7 linked regions of the Homo sapiens genome follow. The protein of the gene in region 7 interacts with the protein of the main gene of each other region in a pairwise test. Each region holds a gene or a part of one and is shown on either strand. Other genes may lie near its edges.

Evidence for each region.
Region 1: the proteins of BANP (region 7) and AFG1L interact in binary tests that used the Homo sapiens proteins (3 or more experiments, as listed by UniProt).
Region 2: the proteins of BANP (region 7) and LIN54 interact in binary tests that used the Homo sapiens proteins (3 or more experiments, as listed by UniProt).
Region 3: the proteins of BANP (region 7) and CEP76 interact in binary tests that used the Homo sapiens proteins (3 or more experiments, as listed by UniProt).
Region 4: the proteins of BANP (region 7) and LAP3 interact in binary tests that used the Homo sapiens proteins (3 or more experiments, as listed by UniProt).
Region 5: the proteins of BANP (region 7) and NRIP2 interact in binary tests that used the Homo sapiens proteins (3 or more experiments, as listed by UniProt).
Region 6: the proteins of BANP (region 7) and PRR23B interact in binary tests that used the Homo sapiens proteins (3 or more experiments, as listed by UniProt).

Annotation. Positions count from the first base shown.
Region 1 is NC_000006.12:108,293,624-108,297,853, forward strand, and holds the start of AFG1L (AFG1-like ATPase), read left to right. Parts: upstream 1-1,430; 5' UTR 1,431-1,456; coding exon 1,457-1,595; intron 1,596-4,230. UniProt on the Homo sapiens protein: Putative mitochondrial ATPase. Plays a role in mitochondrial morphology and mitochondrial protein metabolism.
Region 2 is NC_000004.12:83,000,824-83,004,323, forward strand, and holds part of LIN54 (protein lin-54 homolog), read right to left. Parts: intron 1-3,500. UniProt on the Homo sapiens protein: Component of the DREAM complex, a multiprotein complex that can both act as a transcription activator or repressor depending on the context. In G0 phase, the complex binds to more than 800 promoters and is required for repression of E2F target genes.
Region 3 is NC_000018.10:12,689,224-12,692,723, reverse strand, and holds part of CEP76 (centrosomal protein of 76 kDa), read left to right. Parts: intron 1-1,236; coding exon 1,237-1,365; intron 1,366-3,500. UniProt on the Homo sapiens protein: Centrosomal protein involved in regulation of centriole duplication. Required to limit centriole duplication to once per cell cycle by preventing centriole reduplication.
Region 4 is NC_000004.12:17,590,698-17,594,197, reverse strand, and holds part of LAP3 (cytosol aminopeptidase), read right to left. Parts: intron 1-3,500. UniProt on the Homo sapiens protein: Cytosolic metallopeptidase that catalyzes the removal of unsubstituted N-terminal hydrophobic amino acids from various peptides.
Region 5 is NC_000012.12:2,832,236-2,836,266, forward strand, and holds the start of NRIP2 (nuclear receptor-interacting protein 2), read right to left. Parts: upstream 2,801-4,031; 5' UTR 2,749-2,800; coding exon 2,407-2,748; intron 1-2,406. UniProt on the Homo sapiens protein: Down-regulates transcriptional activation by nuclear receptors such as NR1F2.
Region 6 is NC_000003.12:139,018,531-139,022,243, forward strand, and holds PRR23B (proline-rich protein 23B), read right to left. Parts: upstream 2,397-3,713; 5' UTR 2,132-2,396; coding exon 1,334-2,131; 3' UTR 501-1,333; downstream 1-500.
Region 7 is NC_000016.10:88,034,934-88,038,433, reverse strand, and holds part of BANP (protein BANP), read right to left. Parts: intron 3,112-3,500; coding exon 3,040-3,111; intron 462-3,039; coding exon 423-461; intron 1-422. UniProt on the Homo sapiens protein: Controls V(D)J recombination during T-cell development by repressing T-cell receptor (TCR) beta enhancer function. Binds to scaffold/matrix attachment region beta (S/MARbeta), an ATC-rich DNA sequence located upstream of the TCR beta enhancer.

The sequences.
Region 1 (4,230 bases), on a different chromosome or scaffold from region 7:
CCTCCCCTCCTCTTCTCTTTTCTTTTTTTGAGACAGAGTCTCGCTCAGCTGCCCAGGCTGGAGTGCAGTGGCACGATCTCGACTCACTGCAGCCACCCTCTCCCGGATTCAAGCGATTCTCCCTGCCTCCGCCTCCCAAGTAGCTGGGATTATAGGCACCTGCCATCATGCCGGCTAATTTTTGTATTTTAGTAGAGACAGGGTTTCACCATGTTGGCTAGGCTGGTCTTGAACTCCTGACCTCAGGTGATACGCCTGCCTCAGCCTCCTAAAGTGCTAGGATTACAGGCGTGAGCCACCGCGCCGGGCCTTCTCTTTTTTTTTTTTTTTTTGTTTTTTTTTTGTTTTTTTGAGACAGGGACTCACTCTGTCTCCCAGGCAGGAGTGCAGTGGCACAATCCCAGCTCACTACAGCCTCCACCTCCTGGACGCAACCCCCACCTCGGCCTCCCTAGTAACTAGGACTACAGGGCACAGGCCACCATGCCCAGTTTTGTATTTTTTGCAGAGACAGGATCTCGCTATGTTGCCCAGACTGGTCTCAAACTCCCGGGCTCAAGCGATTCTCCTGCCTGGGCCTCCCAGGCATGAGCCACCTAGCCCGGCCTGTATTATCTTTTCTGGAATTCATCTCGCTTACTGGATTGCCAGCCTCTTCTGGACAGCAATTTGTACTCCTAATTCGCTTATTATAGTATGTCAAAGCATTTATTGTTTAATCAAATTAGGGCAGATCAATGAGAAGTTACCCTTCGGATACACTGTCCCATGACTTCTCCGTCCACCGACAGTCCTTCTTAGGCCCTTGGCTTTCCCATGCCACTTATACAATCTTTCAAAACATTTGAGTGCGTACCATTTATATTATTCAAATACGAAAAGGGAAAGCGGTAGGCGCACATTTCAGGTACTCGTCAAAGATGAGTTGGACGCTGGAGATAAAATAAAAAATGGGCCTACCATTTAGGGAGGTGTGACGAAGTGACACCACTCTTCCGTTAAAACCCGAGGGCCCATTGGGTCACCTCCATTTTATTCAGGTTTCGGAATCTCGGTCATGTGAGCTAACTTAAAAGGCTCAAGAGTGGTTACCTGCCTACCCGTCATAATCACTTCCCAATTCCTTGAAAACTTCGGGTTCCTCGGCCGGCCGCCAGCGCCGGGCGGAGAATCGCCCTCCCTCCCACTGCCCAGACTGGAGCTGCCTGTTCCGTTCCACCCCGCCCCACCCCACTGCATGCTGGGAGTCGTAGTCCCGGCTGGCAGCGTCCGGAAGGACGGGAGGGCACGGGAGTGCAGCCCGCCCATGTGGCTACTGGAGGTCACGTTCCCTAACTGATCCCTTGGTTCTCTCGGGTGGAGCCTTCAGCGTGCACGGCGGGGTTTGACTTTGCCACCGTCTCTCTTCTGGGTTCCAATAAAGTTTTCCTCTTCCTCTCCTCGTACGGAGTTCAAGATGGCGGCCTCCTGGTCGCTCTTGGTTACCCTGCGCCCCTTAGCACAGAGCCCGCTGAGAGGGAGATGTGTTGGGTGCGGGGCCTGGGCCGCCGCTCTCGCTCCTCTGGCCACCGCCCCTGGGAAGCCCTTTTGGAAAGGTCAGTGACTGTGCCATGAGTAGTCCGAGCCGACTGCATATGACTGGAGAAGCCTCTGGGATTACCCTCCCTGTCCGATCTACCCCAGGTGTCTCCTGCTTTCACGAAGCTGAGGGCTCCTCGAGAGGAGTTTCCATTTCTCTTGACCTTTTATACTGTCTGTGAATGAGCCCTGAGCACTGAGGGAAATGACCCTGAGTGACTTTCATTTTGAGGGTCAGAGGTTGACTCAGAGTTTGTTCCTTCCGGGACGTTTAGAGAGCTGAACCTAGTGGGAGTGCCTGGCTTGAAGAGATGCAGGTGTGGGGTTGGGGCCTGGGGACCCCTACCCTCTGCGTTTTCCAAGCTCTCGGGGCTGGTGACTGACGGGCACTGGAGGAAGAGCCGCGCCTGGGACCTCTGCAGGCCCTGATGTCTCTCGTGATTCTAGGAAGGAAGGTCCACACACATTCTCAGATTGAGGGATCGATTCTTGGTGTTCTTTTCAAGTCACTAGGGGCTTCAGTGGAATTATTTTGTCACCGGGCTTTCTTTCTCCCTGGCTTCCTTCATTCAGTTATATGTTCATGAATGAATGAATGAATGTATATTCTGAGTAACCAAGAGTGCCAGTTTTACTGCTCTATTCATGTATTCGCACTAAACTGCACGATTTTCAAAGGCAAGGACATTGTGTCATTGTTTCCTAAGCACTTAGCGCAATGATTGGTACTTGACGTGCAAATATGATTTTTGAGTGAATGAATGAATGAAATTATTCTCCTTGTCTCCCTCATCCACATACTCGTTTTCCTTTTTCTCAAATCCAAGCAACCCCTGTAATATACCTTAATAGATTGATAGACCTTAATAAGGTATATACCTTAATAGATTATTTATTAATTTAGCTAAAAATATGACAATCTTTGACCCTTATCATCAATGCAGTTGAAATTAATACTAGAACTTTGATTAGGTCACCTTACGTCTTTCTGCAAAGATTAGCATAATGCATTTAGTATAATGGAATAGGCTCCACACACTGCCTGGGGGTAGCCCTGATCTGCTGGAGTAGTCGTTAAAAGTAAATAAATAAATAAAGATATAATGGAATATTCTGGTAGTGTAAGCTGTGGATTATAATATAAATTTTATTTTTCATTTTTGGTAGTCAATAAAAGCAAATGCTATAAATTTCAACAGGTGCAAGAAAGAATATGGCAAAATGTAAGGCTTTTTTCTATCCCTATCCCTTAGCTGCTTAGTTTTTCTCCTCAGAGGCAATCTGTGATACTAGTTTCTTATGTATTCTTCCAGATATATTCTGTGTATGTATAAGCATATACATATATAGATAATGGTATTAAAAAAATAGAAGTAGTAACATGCTGTACACATTGTTTTGTGTATACAGCAGTTAATTCTGTTAATTGTTAATTTCTTTTTAAATTTAGTAGCTTGGAGATCATTCCATATCAATACCATATCAATTTCATATGAATAGAACTGCCTCGTGTTTTAAGTTTTAAAAATAGTATTCCATTCTATGTATATACCATGATTTATGAACATTAAAGATTTAAGGAGCATCATTATAACATATAAAATTCACTGAATGCTTATTCTGTGTCATACAATATACTAAGTACTTTCTACATACATTATCTTATTATTCCTCATTATCCTCATTTTGGAGATCATGAATCCAAGGTTGCTGAAGTTATATGGCTAGTAAGTGTCAGAACTGGATTCAAGTGAAGGCTGTGCTATTAATCTATACTCACACTTTCTCCAATACACAAAATTTAGCCAATTCTGGGTGTGAAGATTTGATGAAAATGCAGTTAGGTTAGAGGTCCATTTAATTGTATCTAAGGACGCTCCCTTCCCCTCTTTATTTTTATTTTGTTTATTTATTTATTTTTTTGAGATAGAGCCTTGCTCTGTCTCCCAGACTGGAGTGCAATGGTACAATCTCGGCTCACTGCAACCTCCACCTCCTGGATTCAAGCAATTCTCCCTGCCTCAGCCTCCCTAGTAGCTGAGATCACAGGCACCCACCACCACGCCTGGCTAGTTTTTGTATTTTTAGTAGAGATGGGGTTTCACCATGTTGGGCAGGCTGGTCTCAAACTCCTGACCTCAGGTGATCCGGAGCCTCGGCCCCCCAAAATGCTGGGATTACAGGCGTGAGCCATGGTGCCCTGCCCCCATCTTTAAATAAAAGGAAAATTTTAGTTGAAATTTTGTTCAGTATTCAGAGTCTGATTTACAAATCGATTTTCTATCCCTTTCCTGTTTTTTTGGGGGGGTACATTTCTATTTTACCTTCATTTTTCATCTTTTGAAGTCTACTATTTAGTACAGTGTAATGTGGCTGGGTGTGGTGGCTCACACCTGTAATCCTGGCACTTTGGAAGCCTGAGGGAGTAGGATCACTTGAGCTCAGGAGTTTGAGACCAGCCTGGGCAACATGGCAAAACCCCCTCTCTATAAAAAATACAAAACTTAGCCGGGTGTGGTGGTGCACGCCTGTAGTCCCAGCTACTTGGGAGGCTGAGGTGGGAGGATCACTTGAGCCCAGGAAGTCGAGGCTGCAGTGAGCTGAGAGAGATGGCGTCACTGCACTGCAGGCTGGGTGACAGAGTGAGAACCT
Region 2 (3,500 bases), on a different chromosome or scaffold from region 7:
ATTCTTTTTTTTTTTTTGGAGATAGAGTCCCAGGGTGAAGTGCAGTGGCGCAATCTTGATCTCAGCTCACTGCAACCTCTGCCTCCCAGGTTCAAGCAATTCTCCTGCCTCAGCCTCCCAAATAGCTGGGATCAAAGGCACGCGCCACCACGCCCAGCTAATTTTTGTATTTTTAGGAGAGATGGGGTTCTGCCATGTTGGCCAGGCTGGTCTCAAACTCCTAACCTCAGGTGATCTGCCCACCTTGGCCTCCCAAAGTGCTGGGATTATAGGCATGAGCCACCAAGCCCAGCCCAAAAGCAATAAATTCTTACAGAGAAAACTGTGTCTAGACATTGTGCATGATTTCATAGGATTTATGACATAACCAATGAAGAAAATCATGAAATAAATTGTGGATATGACAAAAATGGTGGGAGGTGAAGGGTTTCAAGATATGCATCTTGGGTAAGGCACACTGGCTCATGACTGTAATCCCAACACTTTGGGAGGCCAAGGTGAGGGGATCACTTGAGCCCCGCAGTTTGAGTAACCTGGGCAACCTAGTGAGATCCCATCTCTACAAAAAATTTAAAAGTTAGCCAGGTGTGGTGGTGTGCACCTGTAGTCCCAGCTACTCAGGAGGCTCAGGTGGAAGGATCACTTGAGCCCAGGAGGTCAAGGATGCGGTGAGCTATGATCACACCACCGCACTCCAGCCTGAGCAGGAGTGAAATCCTGTCAAAAAGAAAAGAAAAAGAAGCCGGGCGCAGTGGCTCACGCCTGTAATCCCAGCACCTTGGGAGGCCGAGGCAGGCAGATCACGAGGTCAGGAGATCAAGAGCATCCTGGCAAACATGGTGAAACCCCGTCTCTACTAAAAATACAAAAAAAAATTAGCTGGGCGTGGTGGCGGGCGCCTGTTGTCCCAGCTACCAGGGAGGCTGAGGCAGGAGAATGGCATGAACCCGGGAGGCAGAGCTTGCAGTGAGCGAAGATCGCACCACTGCACTCCAGCCTGGGCGACAGAGCAAGACTCTGTCTCAAAAAAAAAAAAAGGATAGGAAGGAAGGAAGGAAGGAAGGAAGGAAGGAGGGAGGGAGGGAGGGAGGGAGGGAGGGAGGGAGGGAAGGAAGGAAGGAAGGAAGGAAGGAAGGAAGGAAGGAAGGAAGGAAGGGAGGGATCTTGGAGAAATTCAAGAGCTAACAGATACCATAGCAGAGGAATTAACAGGGGACAACTTGATGGAGATGAGTGCTTCCGAACTAGTGCCAGACAATGAGAAAGAAGATGTAGAAGAAGCACAGAAAACGAACTGACAGTAGACAATCGGCATTATTCAAGACTGCTTTTGAAATTTTTTATGACATGGACCCTTCTACGATACACACAATGAAGCTAAAGCAAACAGTGAAAAAAAGCTTGCTACCACAGAGAAATATTTTTAGAGAAATCAAGCATAGTGGTGCATGCCTTTAATCCCAGCTACTTGGGAGACTGAGGCATGAGGATCGCCTAAGCCCAGGTGGAGTTCAAGACCAGCAACATAGCGAGACCTCACCTCTAAAAAAAAAGCAAGGGTGAGGGAGGAAGGAAGGAAGGAGGGAAGGAAGGAGGGATAGAAAGGAGGGAGGGAGGGAGGAGGGGAGGGAAGGAGGAAGGAGGGAGGAGGGAAGGAGGGAGGGAGGCAGGGGAAAAAAAGTTAGACAGAAATTACAATGTATTTCCATAAAGTTACATCAAGTGTGCCCACCTCTCCTGTCTCCTCATCTACCTCCTCCACCTCTTCTGCCTCTGCCACTCCAGACAGCAAGACCTACCGCTGCTCTTCCTCAGCCTCCTCAACATGAAGACAAGGATGAGGACCTTTATGATGATCCACTTCAGTTCATGAACAGTAACTATATTTTCTCCTCCTTACGGTTTTTGTAATAACATTTTTTCTCTAGCATACTTTATTGTAAGAATATGATATGTAATAAATATACAAAATATGTGTTAATCAACTATGTATGTTATCCGTAAGGCTTCTGGTCAACAATAGGCTATTAGTAGTTAAGTTTTTGGGGATTCAAACATTATATGCATATGTGGATATGACTGCTTGGGGTTGGTGTCCCTAATCCCCACATTGTTCAAGGGTCAACTGTATTTTTTGTACCTAGAGCTTACTACCAGCATTAACTGGTTAACTATACCACTTAGATTTAAGCTTTTTTTTGTGAGTGTGAGATGGAGTCTTGCTCTGTCACCCAGGTTGGAGTGCAGTGGCGTGATCTCCACTCACTGCAACCTCCGCCTCCCAAGTTCAAGTGATTCTCCCGCCTCAGCCTCCTGAGTAGCTGGGATTACAGACGTGTGCCACCACGCTTGGCTTATTTTTTGTATTTTTAGTAGACACAGGGTTTCACCATGTTGGCCAGGCTGGCCTTGAACTCCTGACCTCAATTGATCCGCCCAGCTCGGTCTCCCAAAGTGCTGGGATTACAGGTGTAAGCCACCTCGCCCGGCCAGATTTTAGCTTTTATTTCTAAAATAAAACATCAACAACTAAAAAACCAGTTATAGAACTATATTTCTCAAACTAAACTGGGAGCAGTAGACTATAAGCCATGAGTTCTGATGAAGTTTTGAAAGGTTTGTATTTCCCAGAGAAGACTGGTATGGCCCCTGCACAAGGACGACATGCAAATTTGTGAAGTGTTCCATGAAAAAAACAAATTAAAACAATAAATTTTTTCTGAGACAGAGTCTCACTCTGTTGCCCAGGCTGGAATGCAGTGGCGCAATCTTGGCTCACAGCAACCTCCACCTGGGGGCTCAAGTGATCCTCCCACCTCAGCCTCTGAAGTAGCTGGGACTACAGGTGTGCACCACCATGACTAGCTAATTTGTCTAGTTTTTCTAGAGACGGGGTCTCGCCATGTTGCCCAGGCTAGTCTCAAACACCTGAGCTCAAGCCATCCACCCACCTCGGCCTCACAGAGTGCTGGAATTACAGGCATGAGCTACTGCACCTGACCTAATTTTTTTTTAAAAAAGAAAGGTTTGTATTTTCATTTCAATAGTATTTTTATAAAGTACATTCTGGATCATCTGAATAACCACATCACATCCAAAATCAATGTACAAGAATTCAGATGAGCTAAAGAAAAAGGCACAAAATGGACTTATAAAATAAATGACATATTTATGCCAAATAAAAGCCAAACCACTTAACCTGAGATTTAAGAAAGAAAGACTTGCAGCATTCAAACACAGAAGAGTGGTGTAGAAATTGAGTCATCATAGGATATAGAGTATGTAGAAAACAGGCCGGGTGCGGTGGCTTATGCCTGTAATCCCAGCATTTTCAGAGGCTGAGGTGGACAGATTGCGAGGTCAGGAGTTTGAGACCAGCCTGGCCAATACAGTGACACCCCGTCTCTACTAAAAATACCAAAAAAATTAGCTGGGAGTGGTGGTGGGCACCTGTAGTCCCAGCTACCTGGGAGGCTGAGGCAGGAAAATCGCTTGAACCT
Region 3 (3,500 bases), on a different chromosome or scaffold from region 7:
CTTGCTCTCAAGGAGTTTAGATTCTAGTGCAGGAGAAACAATAAGTCAGCAAACAAAATAATCAGATAGTAGAAGGTGTTTTATGGAGAATTATTACAGGTGATATGATACAGTGGTTATTGGGTGGCTAATTATAGGTCGAGTGACTAAGGTAGGGAAAGAGTCTGAACAACAGGAAGTAACCAGCCATGCAAAGATTGGGGCTGAGCTTCCAGCACTGGGAACAGCCTAGAACAAAAGCCCCTATGGAGGACCGAAAGCCCTGTGTGGCTAGAGCGTAGTGGGTTGGGGAGAGAGGAGAAAATGAGATAGTCGGGCCAGAGTTCATAGGCCAGGGCAGGTATTTTGCAATGTGATGGAGAATGAAGTGTTTTAACAAGAGAATGACAGTATGTTTTTTTTTTTTTTGAGATAGAGTCTCACTCTATCGCCCAGGGTGGAGCACGGTGGCATGAACTCGGCTCACTGCAACCTCTGCCTCCCGGGTTCAAGCAATTCTCCTGCCTCAGCCTCCCGAGTAGCTGGGATTACAGGCATGTACCACCATCCCCAGCTAGTTTTTGTATTTTTAGTTGAGATGGGGTTTCACCATGTTGGCCAGGCTGGTCTCGAACCCCTGACCTCAAATGATCCACCTGCCTTGGCCTCCCAAAATGTTGTGATTACAGGCGTGAGCCACCATGCCCGGCTTGTATGATTTACTATTTAAAAATTTCTGGGCCAGGCGCGGTAATCCCAGCACTTTGGGAGGCCAAGGCGGGCGGATCATGAGCTCAGGAGTTCAAGACTAGCTTGACCAATGTGGTGAAACCCTGTCTCTACTAAAAATACAAAAAAAAATTTAGCTGAGTGTGGTGGCACGTGCCTGTAGTCCCAGCTACTCAGGAGGCTGAGGCAGGAGAATTGCTTGAACATGGGAGGCAGAGGTTGCAGTGAGCTGAGATCTTGCCACTGCACTCCAGCCTGGGCGACAGAGCAAGACTGCATCCTCCACAACCAAAAAAAAAAAAAAAATTCTGTCTTTGAGGAAAAAAAGGTGACTTATGATTATTGTATGGAGATGGGATTGTACTAGGGGTAAGTGTAGAAATAGGGAAGTCAGGAGGCTCTTATAGAAGATGATGATGACTCAGATTAGGGTGGTAATGATGTAGAGAAGTAGATAAATTTGCTACATATTTTGTAGTAATTAAAGATAATGAATAGAAATTGAAAAATATTTTTTTCAATTTCAAGCTTGCTTTGGAACGTCAGAAAACTGCAGAGAAAGAGCGATTATTTCTTGTATATGCTAAGCAGTGGTGGAGAGAATATTTGCAAATTCGACCCTCACACAACTCACGACTGGTTAAGATTTTTGCACAGGTTTGTAAATTATATTAGAATAATTTTATGCCTGTATTTGAGATTTACTGTTATGTGTGTAAATTTCATTTAATATTTATTTGTAAAATGTATTCCAAAAAATAAAAGTGTATTTGTAAAATAAAATGCTGATTTTGTAATATTCTCTTTCACTGCATAGTGAGTGGCAAGATCAATCTATGTCTTATTTTACTTTCAATTTCAGTTATTGTGGGTTTTTGAAAAATCACCTTTCTCAGGTTGAATCAATTATTGTGTTTTAAACCCTTTCTGAATATATTTGATTTAAAGTAGATGAAAATCCATTTTGTTTAACTTGGAATGTGTATTTGCTTGATACTTAGTGCTAAATAATTAACCATTTGGACACTTTGCAGGTTATATGTAAATCCAGCTCTTGTGTGCAGAACGGGGGGGGGCTCTGGGCATATATATATTTTTTGTTAGGGTTTTAAAAAAAATTGTATATAACCACGACTTCTAAGCCAGTGACCAGTAATGTTTAACTGAAGCATTTCAACTATATATCTCTGCCTCCATTTTTCCTGAGTCCTAAACCCATTTTCTCTCTTTAACAGACCAATATAAAATATATGGTCAGGTCAGCTAGGCGCGGTGGCTCACGCCTGTAATCCCAGCACTTGGGGAGGCCGAGGTGGGTGGATCAAGAGGTCAGGAGATCGAGACCATCCTGGCTAACACGGTGAAACCCCGTTTCTACTAAAAACACAAAAAATTAGCCGGGCGTGATGGCGGGCTCCTATAGTCGCAGCTACTCGGGAGGCTGAGGCAGGAGAATGGCGTGAACCCGGGAGGCGGAGCTTGCAGTGAGCCGAGATCGCACCACTGCAGTCCGGCCTGGGCAACACAGCAAGACTCCGTCTCAAAAAAAAAAACAACAAAAAATGTGGTCAGGTTCACGTATTTTTTGTAACTCCTAAGGAACAGTTCAAATATTTTGTATATATTCAGCCTCATACAGATGCTTTCATATAAGTATAGTGTAGTATATTATTTTAAGTTAAGTTTCTCAAATCCTGTACATTCATCCAGCTTTACCCTACTTTCCCTAGATTTTGGAACAGGCTAAAAGTGGTTTAGTGTCCAGATGGGGAGCTTGGGAATGAGAGGTTGACTAGAGGTGGGAATAAGGGAAATGGCTTCTGACTTTCTGATAGCGTTGTTTATATATTGAATGACTGGTTGGCAAGGTAACAACATTATCAGGACAAAGGCAAGGAGAAACCAATCAAAATGTAACTGGCTTCCTGGCCGGGCGCGGTGGCTCACGCCTGTAATCCCAGCACTTGGGGAGGCCGAGGCAGGTGGATCCTCTGAGGTCAGGGGTTTGAGACCAGCCTGGCCAACATGGCGAAACCTTGTCTCTACTAAAAATACAAAAATTAGCCAGGCTTGGTGGCAGGCACCTATAATCCCAGTTAGTCAGGAGGCTGAGGCAGGAGAATTGCTTAACCCGGGAGGCGGAGGTTGCAGTGAGCGAAGATCACGCCATTGCACTCCAGCCTGGGCAACAGAGTGAGACTCTGTCTCAAAACAATAACAACGACAAAAAATATACATATATATATATATAAACTGGCTCCCTGCTGTCTATATAGTCTGAGGCATTTATTCATTGCCACGTGGAATTAGGAACTAGAGAGGACTCAGGATGGAGTGAGGCAGTGAATCAGAGAAATGGCAGGATCAAAGAGGAGGAAGAAGTTGAAATGCACTAAGGAAGTCAAGGAAGTGGGATTTTCTTTTAGGAAATATTACTTAAACGACTTCCTCTCTCAGAATTCATTTTAAGATTTGAACCATAGAACGTAATTTAGTCTCATAGTAACCATATAAGATTGTCAAGTGGCCAGGCATTGGCTCTTTTTGTAAACAGTATGAAGGTTAGAGAAGTGAACAGTCTTTTCAAGGCCAAACAGCAACTCAGTCATGGCAAAGTCTGTGTCAAATTGGAGTTTCAACTGGTGCCTTTTTGGTTTATGCCACCTCTTTCCATATACATAGAGTAAATAAAATGCTGATTTAATTTAGATTCCTCAGAACTGTTTCTTGCTGCTTCCTGTATTTGACTAGTTCTGAAATTAAACAACAACAGTGTAAAACAGTCAATCTAA
Region 4 (3,500 bases), on a different chromosome or scaffold from region 7:
GACTATGGTTCTAAGGTAGCCACCAGTTAAAGATCAGCAATCAGCTTTGGCTCACTTTTTCAATCTCTCTCAAATCCACCCACTTATTTTCTACTCAGCCGCCCTCATTGATGCTACTACCCTCTGTCATTTGGATGTTTGTCAGGTCTCCTTAACGGGTCTTTCTGTATCAGTCTCACCACTGTCATTTCATTAACCATAAAAACAGCACATTTTTACACACACACAAAATCTATCTCAATCAAAATCTCAGTAGGTTTTGTTGTGTGAAAAAACAAGCAGATTCACCGAGTGTGGTGGCTCACGCCTGTAATCCCAGCACTTAGGGAGGCTGAGGCAGGCAAATCACTTGAGCCCAGGAGTTCGAGACCAGCTTGGGCAACACGGCAAAACCCCATCTCTATAAAAAATACAAAAATTAGCTGGGCATAGTGGTTCGCATCTGTAGTCCCAGCTACTCGGGAGGTTGAGGTGAGAGGATCACCTGAGCCCAGGGAGGTCGAGGCTGCAGTGGGCCAAGATTGCACCACTGCACTCCAGCCTGGGCAACAGAGTGAGACACTGTCTCAAAAAAAAAAAAAAAAAAAACCCAAGCAGATTCTAAAATGTATATGAAGATGCAAAGGATGTAGCCAAAGTCATTCTGAAAAAGAAGAGCAAAGCTGGAGGACTCATGTGACTAGATTTCAAGCCTACTCAAAGCTGCAGTAATCAAGATATTTGGTCTTCAGGCACTGGTGAAAGGATACAGAGCCCAGAGGCAGACCTACAATTATATGGACAACTGATTTCCACCCGAGGTGCCAAGGTAGTCTAGTGGGGAAAGGACAGTCTTTTCAACAAACAGTGCAGAAGTAAATGAACAGCCACATAGGAAAAAAAAAAGACAAAAACAAACCAGGTCTTTTCACACCATACACAAAGATTCAAAGTGAAGCATAGCGTCAAAATCTAAAACTCACTTAAAATGAAATATATTTTTAAAAAACCTTACAATTCTGTAAAGCCAACACTCCTATAAAAAGGGGCAAAAGATTTGAATACCTTACTACAGAAGATATACCAATGTCCAATAAGCACATTAAAAAATGCCCAGCTTTGGCTGGGTGTGATGGCTCATGCCTGTATCCCAGCACTCTGGGAGGCTGGGGCAGGCAGATCACTTGAGATCAGGAGTTTGAGACCAGCCTGGCCAACATGGTGAAAACCCGTCTCTACTAAAGATGCAAAAATTAGCCAGGCATGGTGGTGTGTGCCTATAGTCCCGGCTACTCGGGAGGCTGAGGCAGGAGAATTGCTTGAACCCAGAAGGCGGAGGTGCAGTGAGCCGAGGTGCACTCCAGCCTGGGTGACAGAGCGAGACTCCGTCTCAAAAAATAAAAAATGACCGACTTCATTAGTCACTAGAGAAATGCAAATTAAACCACAAAGAGAGATCACTGTATACTCACTGGTACAGCTAGAATTATAAAGACTGACAATATCAAATACTGAGGAAGGTGTAGAACAATTAGAATCTTTGTACATTGATGGTAGAAGTGAAAATGTACCCGCTTTGGAAAAGTTTGGTAGTTTCTTAAAAGTTAAACACTCAGTTATTATACAACACAGTGGCTGTTTTCCTAGGTATTTACGCAAGAGTAAGGAAAACACGTCCACACAAAGGCTTACAGATGCTCTTAACTTTATTCCTAATAGCCTAAAACTGGAAACAACACAAATTTCCACCAATAGATGAATGGGTAAACAAAATTTGGCATTTCCATACAATTGAACACTACTCAACAATAGAAAAGAAGAATGGCTGACATGACCAACAACATAGATAAACCCCAGATACTACGCTGAAAGAAGCCAGACATCAAAGACTGCATTTATATGACTTTCCGGAATAGGCAAAACTAATCTGCAGTAATAGGAAGATGATCGGCTGTCTGGAGCAAGGGCAGGTGGGGAATGACTACAAAAAGGCAGAAGGGAACTTCTGGGGGATGATAAAAATGTTGTATTTTCCTGACAGTGGTGAACGGTGCATAGGTGTATACATTTGTTCTTTGGTTTTTAAAATCAATCTATCTACCTATCTAATCTATCTATTTATTTATTTAAAGATGGTGTTTTACTATGTTGCACAGGCTGCTCTTGAACTCCTGGGCTCATGTAATCCTCCTACCTCAGCTTCCCAAGTAGCTGAGATTACAGGTGTATGCCACTGCACCCCCCCAAGGTGCACACATTTGTTAAAACTCATTGAGCTGGCCACTTAGAGGGTGAATTTCACTGTATGTATAAATCTCACGTCATTCTGTTTGGTGGAAACCCTTCAGTTACGGCCAACTGTTCTCAGAGCAGAGTGCAAAAATCTAAGCAGGCCCGCAGCGACCAAGCTTCTGTGTACCTCTCTAGCCGTATCTTGCCCCTTCTCTCCATCACGCTCTTGTGTGCAGGCACACTGGTACTCTTGCCATACCAGGAATTTACCCTGCTCCTTCCCACCTTACAGCCTTCACCATGTTTCCCTGCACTAGAATGCCTGTCCCTAGTCTCTCCTGAGCTAATTCCTCCTGATTCTTCACATCTTCAGCTAAAACTGACACTCCTGCAAGGAAACCTTCTCTAAACCCAAAGAAGGCTTTGGGTTTAGGCCTCTTTGTTTTTATTCTCAGCAAAAATTACAAATGTGGACTTAAATTAACAATAAACTTCACCCTTAGCATAAAAATATTTGTGTCACAATTGGCAAGACATTTAGTCTAGGGCCAGGTGTGGTGGCTCACACCGGTAATCCCAGCACTTTGGGAGGCCAAGGTGGGGGGATCACGAGATCAGGAGTTTGAGACGAGCCTGGCCAACATGGTGAAACCCCATCCCTACCAAAAATAGAAAAAAATTAGCCAGGCGTGGTGGCAGACACCTGTAATCCCAGCTACTCGGGACTAAAAATACAAAAAAAATTAGCCAGGAGTGGTAGCAGGCACCTGTAATCCCAGCTACTCGGGAGGCTCAGGCAGGAGAATCACTTGAACCAAGGAGGCAGAGGTTGCAATGAGCCAAGACTGCGCCAATGCACTCCAGCCTGGGCAACAGAGCAAGATTCCGTCTCAAAAAACAAAACAAAACAAAAGTTTAGGCTGGGTGTGGTGGCTCACACCTGTAATCCTAGCACTTTGGGAGGCCAAGGCAGGCAGATTGCTTGAGCTCAGAAGTTCAAAACCAGCCTGGGCAACATAGCAAGACCACGTCTCTACTAAAAAAAAAAAAAAAAAAAAAAAAAGTTTAACTTTCTAAATTGTGTTTGCTGTATTGTTTTTATAATACACACTTTAGTGGCCAGGCGCAGTGGCTCACGCCTGTAATCCCAGCAGTTCAGGAGACCGAGGCGGGCAGATGACGAGGTCAGGAGATCGAGACCACCTGGCTAACAAGCTGAAACCCCATCTCTACTAAAACTACAAAAAATTAGCCGGGCATGGTGGCGGGGGCCTGTAGTCCCAGCTACT
Region 5 (4,031 bases), on a different chromosome or scaffold from region 7:
AAATGCATCAAAGACCCCCCACCCTACCCCGCATTGCTTTCATGATAGAGCTCAAGCTTTTGAAGGTGATCCACAGTCCACATGACCGGGCCGTGCCTCCTTCCCTGCCACTCTGTTTATGGGCCCCAGAAGCACCGCTCATACCAGGCCGCTTTTTGCCTCCATGTCTTCACTCCTCTCTCCTCTCTCCTCTCTTCCTGAAACTCCTCTTCCTCACTCTTCTCGAGGCTAGACTGGATGACTGGCTTAACACACTTTATTTGAGAGAGAGGTTGTATCTTAAGTTTGAGATTCTGTGTACATCCTATAATGCAGGATGTACCCTCTCCAGGATACCCTCTCTGAGTTCTTCATGCTCCTCTCTCCATACACGCCAAGCTGGGGTCCCTTGTCTTAGCTCCCTTTTCCATGCTTCTCACAAATGTTATGTATGGATTTTACTCCCCCATTAGCCTGGAGAGCGCTTGAGTCTACCTCACTCATTTTTATATCCCAGGGCATGGCTCAGCATCTAGTAGGCACTCAATAAATGCTTGCTGCAGACTGACTCTTCCCCCAGGCTCTATGCACCTCTCCACCTGCCCTCTCTCCTTGGGATCCTGGGATTGTTTTTCTACCCTTAGATTAATGAGGCCCTTGGGGTTGCTCCTGGCAGCAAGGCTGCCAGCAGTAGACCCAGTGCTGGGAAAAGTTCAGCGAGCTCTGGGATTGGCTGGAGAGACTGGCTCTGCACTTCCCATCTTCCACCTTCCCACGATGAACACAGGCTTCAGGCCCCTCCCGCTGTTGTGCAGTTTGCTCCTCAGCCATCCCAGGGAGGGAGACGATGGGGTCTTCCCTGCCTGTTGTGCCTTTGCTCCCAGAGCCATAGGAGGTAACTGCTAGGGATCAATTGGGGATATCCTAGGCAGAGGGGAGAGGTGAAAAGCCCGGGACTTTCTCATTAGAAGGCGGGACCTGCCACTCCGGGATGGCAATGTCAGTAGAGCACCTTCTCCTGGGGCCAAACACATGTAGGATGGTCCCCAGTAGGTTCCAGCCATTGAGAGCCGAAGAACCCGCTTCCCTGCTCCATCCCTGTTTTTCAGCTATGCTTGCTGCCACTGCAAGTAGGAATAAGCCCCTGGCAGTTCCCTGAATTAAGTCTCAGTGCAATCCCTTTTCTCGTTGGGAGCTAGGGAATTGCCAGACCTCTGGGCTGTGGTCCTGGTGGGGGCAACCCAGGCTGAGAGGAGTCTGGAAAGGTGGAGCTAAGTAGGGAAAGGCGAGGTGCTGCACTGGCCTTCAGGTTCCCGGGGAGAAGCAGTTGGTGGAGCACAGGCCTGCAGACATGCTTCCAACCTGTCAGTACAGGCCTGGTTGAGTACCTCTTCTCAGACTAGGAGAGGGGACAGGGAACCGAGTGCTCCCAAGCCTTTCTACAAAGGATTTCCTCTCTTCCACGGGTCAGAGGCCAGGAATATTTCTCAGACTAAATGGAGTAATAGCTGGGGGAATAATAATAATAGCATTTAGATAGTGCCTGCTATTAGGCACTGTTCTAAGTGCTTTAAATATATTAGCTCTAACAACTCTCCCAACAATCCTATGATTGATTTGATTCTCATTTAACAGATGAAGAAACTGAGGCACAGAGACGTAAAGTCAATTGCACAAGTTAGTAAATGGCAGAGCCAGGATCTGATCCCAAGCGAAGTGGCTGCGCAGCCCCGCTTGTCAGCATTGCCTCTCAGAGGGGAATGCCTGAATCTGCAGTTTTCCGCCGCCCACTCACATCCTCACTGTTACTCCCCTGCCCCATTCCTCTGAGGCCAAAGCTGCTGCAGACATGGGATGGGAGGAGAGGAGCCTGGAAGGTCCATTCCACTCAGGAGTTGGGGGAGCAGCACTCAAGGCGGCCAGGGGCCCCCGGCAAGAGCCACACAAAACCCTGATGCCCTGGGAAGGATGGAGACCCCCGATGTTTTGATTCTGAGGAGAAAGGACAAGTGGATAGACAGACCTGGTCTGGGGAACCTGTGGTTCGGGGGAAGCAGGAAGTCACAACCCTAAACTGGCCAGTCCTCCAGGCCCTCCTGGTTGTAAGTGACCACTCTAGAGGGTTCCTGTGTTCCTGTAAGCCCCCACTTCTAAACAGCCTAGCTCCTCACCACCCTCAAGTTTGGGGCCATTAGAGGAAAAAGGGAAGCCAAGCAATGAGAGAATAGGAACCCTCAGAGCCACCAAACCATGGGAACATCCCCGGTGAAGAGCCTTGAGTTGGCAGGATGACCTCTCCCCATCTCAGCAAGGGAGCGGGACCTGAAAGCTGAGGGTCTGCACTTTCTGGTCCTGCCTCCTGCTCAGGATCTGGGAAGTGGAAGGAAAAGGCCAGGGGACGCTGGCAGGGGAGGGGTGATGCCTCACCAAGTCCTTGGAGGTGCCGAGCCTCTTGAGGCTGTCCAGCGGGAGCAGGTCGGCCGAGTCCTTGTGCAGGAACTGGGTGGCCTGTTTGAGCCGGCGCTGCTGGCTCAGGTGGGCTCGGTCTCGAAGCTGTGCCTCCTGCCCCCTCGTCCTGGCTTCTCCCTCATCTCTCCTGGCCTCCTGCTTGGTGCTCATGGCCCCTGCTGGAGGAGTGGGCCAGGGGCTGCTCGGTGGGGGCGTCACCGAGTCCTCTCTGCTTCTTCCTGCCTGTCTCTGTCCCGTGCTGCAGCTCTCTTTCCAACAGGAGGGTCTCCACGGGAGGGAAAGAGGAAAAATAAATAACATGCAGGAGCAGCCGCGTCAGTCTCCAATTTCCCGAGATTGCTGTAGAGGGAGTGAGACTCCGGCTGGAAAAACCCAGTCCTAGAAGAGAGGGAGGGTTGGCAGGGCCCACAGCTGGCTGACTTGGCCGCATCCCCAACGCTGGGGTCCTGGTCAGAGCGGGCGGTGGATGGGGCGTATGTGTGTGTGTGTGTGTGTGTGTGTGTGTGTGAGAGAGAGAGAGAGAAGGAGAGTGAGAGACAGTGCTGTAAACTGTCAGGGTGCCCGTGCCAGGTGGTTTGCGAGGAAGCGCTTGTCACTGTGTGGGGGCAGCAGCCTTAGTGCACCTCCCAGCGTGTGTGGCCCCCGCCCTCCTCTGCATCCCTCCCAGGCTTCCCAGGACTGCCCAGCTGTTTTCTCCTGGCATTATCTGCAGCCCAGGGCTGGCGCGCAGGCCAGTAACTGGGTTCAGATCAAAGAGGGGCAGCATGAGAGCGTCCTTCCCTCCTCTCATCCCCCTAGCCTTACCTTGTTAGGTCTCTTGCCTCCCGCCTAGCAGATGTCAGAGTCTTTAACTAATTGACTCTGGATTCTGGGTTCCAGGGAATGACAGGAACAACTCTGAATCTTCCCACGAGTAGAAATTGTCCCTGGCATCTCAGTCTCCTTTATATGACTCTCCTCAAGTCCTGGCTCTTTAAAAAATGTTGCATTTCAAATATACAGAAGTTATAAAGAATAAGATAACCAGTACTCTTCACTCATCACCAGTTTAAAAAATAAGCTGTTGAAGCTCCCTGTGCACTTCCACTTCCGCCTGCTGAAATTGGTGTTTATCAGGCCCAGACTTCTTTATATTCTTTATGCAAATACTTACATATGCATTCTAAGCAATATGTCGTTGGTTTTGTCCTACTCACTGTATTTATTCTTCTGCAATCTGCTCTTTTTTGCTGAATAGTTTTTGTTAGTGAGATTCATCCATACGGTATGCCCAGCTCTAGTTAATTGACTTCACCTGCTGTGTAACATAGTATTCCATTAGATGCATGCATGACATTGAGGAAATGTAGGTTATTTTTCATTTTTAGGTCTAACAAACAATGCTGCTATGAATATTTTTGCACACATCTCCTGGGGCACCTATGTAGGCATTTCTCTAGAGTATACACCTACACCTAGGAGTGGAATTGCTGGGGCATCCCATATACAGCTTTGCCTTTTTGGCATATTGCCAGAGTGTTTTTACCAGTGCACACTGAGACAGCTGCACACAGGGGCTCCTGAGGTTCCACATCCTCTCCAGG
Region 6 (3,713 bases), on a different chromosome or scaffold from region 7:
CACCACTGCACTCCAGCTTGGGCGACAGAGTGAACCCTGTCTTAAAGTCTTTCTCTCTCTACACACACACGCACACACACACACACACACACACACACACGAACAGCCAAATTACATATAAAAGGACTAACAACTTGATTGACAGAAGACATCCTGCAACAACAAAAAATGGCAAAACAACGGGCTAATATCTTTAAAGTACTGTAGTTAAATATCATTTTAAAATTAAGAATGAAGGTGTAATTAAAACATTTACAGTCAATTCTAAGAAAGTTTATCACACAAAAACATGCTCAGACTTACAGAAGCAAGATAGTTTATCACACGTAAGACACAGTGGAAAGAAATATTAAAGGATATTCTTCACAAAAAGAAAACTGAAGCTACAGTGAAGGAGTGGAATGTAAGAATAAAAATGTAGGAAATAATTGGTAAGGCATAGTGGTAGATCTGAATAGTTATTGATGTTTTTAAATAAAATAAAACCAGCTTGTTGACATCAGCTTTACCAGTAATCTTTTATCTCCTATATAAAAATATGAGGCAACTACAGTAATAAACTAACATTTTAAAAGTTAGAAGTTTGGTTTACATGAGAAAAAACTCAGGGTAGATTTTAAAAGGTATAAAATAATGTGGAATAGCAGGAATGCAAACACTTTCCATTGGGTGAAATCACCAGATTAACAAATTAAAAAAAAATACATAACACAATGCATGCTGAAAACATCTGATAAAATTCAACACAAATTTTCATTTAGAATTAGAAGACTAGAAGAAAACTTCAGCAGGATAAGGGGTTCCTAGGAAGAAGCAACATACAGTCTTGTATAGTAAGCATACTATTTGGCAGTTTCCTTGGAGAGCAGTTGGAAAAACCCCAAGAAAAGCCATGGCTAAGTCTTCCAAAATTCATGGGAAAAAAATGCAAGGTAACTAACAACGTAAGAGATCTGGTGATTTCTTGGTTTGGGGAGAAACGGGAGTGGCAGTATGATGCTGGAGAAAGACTGGAATTTGAGAGAAACAACTGATGCAAAACGAGGGAGAATGAAGGGATCTGAATATGACCTTGTAAAGAAGCCCAGAAATCTGGACACATTTTCTGGTATCCTTGCGCAGATTTTCTATTTAAAGATGAGGTCTAGAATATACCTTTTCTTGCTGACGTCTTCATCTCCTACTATCGGTAGTGTGCAGCGAAAAAGCAATTGTCCGAACACGCGGTGCCCAATTTCCAGGTTGTTGGATACTCAATGTGAGAGATTCCCGCAATCCTAGAGGGCCTCCAGCAGAGCGGCCAGGATTGTTGTGTGTACGTGGGGGTGGGGGTCTATGCCTGGAACAGGCGTCTCCGGGCCTTGCACGGAGGGCGTTCCGGGAGCGGCGAGCGCGCGTGGGGACCTGGACTCCCCACGCACGGAGAGGGAGGTAGAGGTTGGAGAGGTGAGCTGGGGACAGGCTCCAGAAGGCGGAATTCCAGGTCAAAGATGGGGCGTGGAGAACGTCTCTCTGAACTGGGGTTGGGGGCCAGAGCACAGGGTTCTGGGATGGGGCCCTCCCGGTAGGGGATGAACATACTTCTAGAGGAGGGGTAGAGCCCAGCGGCTGAGCCGGTTGGGGAGTCCATCCGGAGCTCCGGGAACTCGGGGTCCGCGTCCTCCTCGTAGGCCTCTTCCTGGGCGGCGATCTCTGGGACAGATGCGCAGAATTCCAGCTCGACGACGACGTCCTCCCTGACAGCGCCCAGGAAAACGTCCACTTCCAGCCCGGCAGACGAGTCGTGCTGCGCTCCTGAGCGTTCGTCGACGGAGCTCAGGAGGACCTCTGGGATCAGGATGAGGGTGTGTCCACCGAGAGACACTCGCAGGATCGACGTTGGTGCGGGCTCCAGCACCAGGTCGACGTCGTCCAGGGGCACACGCAGGGCACAGCCCGCGGCCAGGACCACTATGGAGGTGAGCGCGTCCACGGCCGGGTCCCCCGCCGGGTCTTCCAGGCTGGGTGCCGCGCGGGGTTCGGGGCCCGCGGGCTCCTCCAATCGGAGGCGCTTGGCAGGGCCGGGTCCTCCTGGCTGCTGTCCCCACCAGGGAGCAGGGAAGGCGCTGGGGCTGCGGGGCCGGCTGACCATCGCCTCGACGGCGCTGTGGACGGCGCTCCTGGGCCTAGCAGCGGACGTGGGGAGCGCGGCGGTGAAGTCCTCTTTGAAGTAACAGATGTCGGTGGTAGGGGAGGCTGGTTGGGACGAGCGGGGCGCAGGACCGCGCGACGCGGGGCGAGTCCTCGGAGCTCCCGGGGCGCCTCCTGGGGGACCGTAGTCTGGGCTGCTGGTGGTGCCTCGCCGGCCACCGGGCTCAGCTTAGCTCGTTGGACCCTTGGGCCTTCCTGATGCAGACCCGGATGCGCACTGCAAAGCCAATTATGTTGTAAATGACGGCAGCGGAACCGAAGTCGCAAAATGTCACGCAATGCTCCGCCCCCTGGAGGACCCGCTCTAGAGGCGGAGGTATCCGTGCTGTCCAGTATCCGTGGCTATAATTGGTCGGACACGCTGGGGAAATACTCTTACAGGCCTCTAGGGGGCAGAATGATCAGTATAACTTATTCAGAAAAAATGATAACAACTGTAATAGAATTTCAAAGATGGCTCGCCTTTAGAACTCATGTTTTCTTGTGATTTCAGGGATTCTAGAGAAAAGACCACTCAGATCTCTCCGACCCATCCAAATGCTACATACAATTCCTTTAATGCTACTAAATTATTTCATTTTAGGAGTATTCAGAAAATACAGATTTCTACTTGGGAAAATTGATTTTAAAATTCTGAGTGAAGCTGGGAGTGGTGGCTCACGCTTGTAATCCCAGCACTTTGGGAGGCTGAGGAAGGCTGATCGCTTGAGCCCAGGAGTTCAAGACCACTCTGGGCAACATGGTGAGACTCGGTCCCTATGAAAAATTTAAAAATTCAAAAATTAGCCTGGCGTGGTGGTGCGTACCTGTGGTCCCAGCTATTTGGGAGGCTGAGATGGCAAGATCGATGGAGCCCGGGAGGTCAAAGCTGGAGTGAACCGTGGTGGTGCCACTGCACTCCAGCCTGGGCAACAGAGTGAGACCCTGTCTAAAAAAAAAAAAAAAAAAAGTGAAACATTTGTGAATAGTTTCATCCTGAAAGTTAAAAAGTTATAAAATTATTAATCATATTAAAATTTAAAACAATATTAATAAAATTATTTTTTTTTCTTTTTTTTTTTTTTTTTGAGACAGAGTCTCGCTCTGTCGCCCAGGCTGGAGTGCAGTGGCGCGATCTCGGCTCACTGCAAGCTCCACCTCCTGAGTTCACGCCATTCTCCTGCCTCAGCCTCCCGAATAGCTGGGACTACAGGCGCCCACCACCGCGCCCGGCTAATTTTTTTTGTATTTTTAGTAGAGACGGGGTTTCACCGTGTTAGCCAGGATGGTCTCGATCTCCTGACCGCGTGATCTGCCCGCCTCAGCCTCCCAAAGTGCTGGGATTACAGGCGTGAGCTACCGCGCCTGGCCGTATAAAATTAATTTTTAAATTGAACACTTATATTTCCATGATTCTTGAATTTTTTTTTTTTTTTTGACAGAGTCTGACTCTGTCTCCCAGGCTGGAGTGCAGTGGTGCAATCTCAGCTCACTGCAGTCTTGGCCTCCCAGGCTCTGGTGATCCTCCCACCTCAGCCTCCGGA
Region 7 (3,500 bases):
CTGAAATCCTACGGAGCAGCAAATGTAACCCCCAAGCCCTGCCCTCCCCCCTTCCAGGCCTGTGCATTGTCATGGTGAGGAAAGCCAGTCCTGCTCTGGGGCTCACACTGAGAGGCCTTTGCACCCTCGCTCCCTCCCGCGAGAGCCCCCATTCCTTGGCAGCACCATGGCCTGTATGTGAGAGGGGGACTGTGGCACTCACCTGACCATCCGCCCCCTTCCCATGAGAGCCCCACCCCTCGGCAGCGCAATGCCCACAATGACCGTCCCACCCCTCCCGTGAGAGCCCCACCCCTCGGCAGCGCAATGCCCACATGTACATGGGGACCAGGGCACTCACCTGACCGTCCCACCCCCTCCCCTGAGAACCCCATCCCTCGGCAGCGCAACGCCCGCATGTGCATGGGGACTGGGACACTCACCTGACCGTCCTGCCCCACGTGATGGATCTGGAGGTTGCCCTACAAAGAACGAGAGGAGGAGACGGTCATGAGTAGAAACACACCAAGACACCCTCAGACACGGCAAACACGCCAAGACACATCACAGGCCACTTGAGAATAACAAGAAAACCCCAGTTCTGCAAAAATTCAACCTCCAGTAGCAACAAAAGCCCCAAAACAAAATATTGACATTTCTAGGTACTATTTATTATTTTAAAGATGAACAAACAACTCAAAAAGCATTGTACTCATTCCCCTACCCTGACCCCAAATGAAAATGTCATTTTTACTTCATTTTTTATTTTGAAAGAATCTGACTCACAAAAAGTACAGAAAGTAGCAGAGAGACGTCCTATGTGTGTGTCGCCCAGCTTCCCCGAAGGGGGACGCCTTGCTGAGCTGTGCGGCATCACCACGCCAGGTCACGGGCTGCACGCAAGGAACCAACTCACTCAACCACAGAGCTACTAAGAGCTCTCCAGTTAGAAATTCATTTTCATTTGTTGTAAAAAGGAACTGTGTTGTCTGTCAGACCCTGCTAAATGTTTATTTGCAGATATCCTGTTTTAACAAAATAATTTTAAATGAACACGGTATGAATGTATGGTGACGAGACTGCATACTGTCACTCATCACAAAGCCATCGTTAGTATTATTAGCAATTTCTAACTTACTGCATTCAATTCCTATTGAAAACGAAAGACAATCACCTATACAAGATGGATTCAGTTTTGAAAACTGATGGATAAAACTAATAATAAAAAATTGAAATTCGAGTAGTCAAGATTTTTTTAGCATAAACTATAAAAAGCAAATGTGTGTTGTTTTTTTTCTTTTGCTGCTGTTTCAATTTTCCTGCATTTTCAATGACTCTAAGGAAATTAAGCATTCTGACGAACTTCATAGGCTTCCAGGTATTCAAGAACTCTGGCTGAGCTCTTTGGCAGTGAGCTTAGCCTCCCAGCCCACATCTGTCTGTGCCTTGAGAAGCAAACCTTCCCCTGCCCCTCAAAGGCAGCTCCTGCACTGGAAGGTGCTGCTGGGATCCTGCACCTCGCAGCCACTCAGGCCCCCAACTCCTGCACCTGACCTCGCTGAGCTGACAGGCGCATCTCCTGACATCTCCAAGGAGATGGTCCCTGACCCACCCACAGACACAGAACAGGGAAGGCCCTGCTCCTTCCTGGACACTCTGGCCTCCTGGGACCGTCCCCTACCTGCTCCCCGCCCTGCTGCTTCCTTCCATCCATCCATCTGACCACGTTTCTTAGTGACCTGGTCATGTCGCTGTGTGGATGAGCCCACTCATTCCCAGTCGCTCACGGCCCCCACATGAATTCGTTCCTCCCCTTTCACCTCATCCTCATTCCGCCCTCAGAACCCTTACGCATGTGCTCCCCTCTCAGGATAACCCACCGGGAACTGCTGGTGTCCAAATTAAAGCCACTGCCAGCAGACACGCCCGAGTCCCTGGTGCTCCACGTGCCACGGCGTGCATGTGTCCACAGTCTTGCTCACGGGCACTTGGGCAGGAGGCTCTGCGCCCGCTGTGAGTCCCCGATGGCAGGGCTTCTCTCTCCTCTGCTCCCCCACAGCACCTGCACCCAGCATGAGCTCCCAGGAGGCCTCGCACGCCAACATCTCCATGAGTCCCCTTGACCTCAGCACCCGGGCTTCCTAGTCTCTGCTGCTGGTGTGTGTGGGGAAGCCTGAGATCTTTGCAGCGACACACTACTATGCACCAAACACAAAGCTGGTGCCATTGTCACGACCTAGAAACAGCCATGTTCCTCATCCCCCAGAGCGCACCACGGTCACTGAGTACAACACGTGTGTGCTGCTTAGTGCCCTGTGCCTGCTGCTGCCTGTGCTGCAGGAAACAGCCCAGAGTCGAAGGACGGTCACCCGGGAGACAGTCCTGCTCTGGCATGCAAACATGGAGCATCGCAACAGGCTGGCCTCGGCTTTCCAAGAACTCAGACTGTCACTGCCGCCTTCACATTCCAGACCCCAACAGCAGCTGAGCCCGCACTTCTGAGTGCGTGGCCGGGTAGAGCTCCAGAAACTGAGACAATCACAGACCCAGCAGGTGCGTCAAGGGCTATGAGCAGCTCTCAGGACTGGCAGCATCACCTTGTGGGATTCCCCACCATCCCATGAAATCGGCACTAATCCCGTAGAGGCCACTAGGAAGCTGGGGCCACATGGCAGGTGAGGGGGTATGTCAGGTCACCTACGCAGGGGCAGACCCCATCTCGGCCACACTGGGGGCCTCCCCTGGCAGGAAGGGCAGGGCCAGACAGGGAGAGAAGGGTACTCAGAGGGCACTTCCAGCCAGCAGTAGAAACATCTACCCAGGAGATCTTTACCAAGACAGACCAGAAGCTGTGGAGACCAACGGACAGGAGGGGGAGGCAGAGAGGCCACAGAGACTGCAGGCCCGCTATGTGCACCCTGGAAGCGGAGTCCTGCAGCCCTTGCCCACGTTCCCTGTCCTGGGGGCTCCCTGCTGCCCTCGCACTGTGACACCGATGAAGGTCGGGAGCATGTGGGCACGGTGCCTGCAGGGACAGTGCTGCAGCGAGAGCTGACTCACCTCGCTGTCCTGCGTGATCTGGACTTGCTCCCCCTGCGGCACCTGGGCGATGTGGAGGTGTCCCTGTGGGATCCGCAGCAAGAAAAGACACCAAGAAGCATCAGAAGAAAATCAAAAGCAAAGGAAACAAGAAACATCTTCCGGAATGTTTGTTCTTGATTATCTGTTTACAATTCAAAAAGATAACTAAATCCTGAATAGTGCAATATAGTCTGTGGTCACTTCTTTAAATTAAGCTTTTGGTTCACAGTAGTCCCCCTCATCCATGAGGGTTTCAAGAAGCACCCCCTACCCCCACCACGTGGACGCCAGAAACTGTGGATGGTGCTGAACCCCATATATGCTATGCTTTTTCCCGCCCATATGTGCCACACAGCTTGGACATGCTGGACAAAGGAACGACTCACGTCCCGGGCTGGACAGAGCAGGACGACCAGACTTCATCATGCTACTACTCAGAA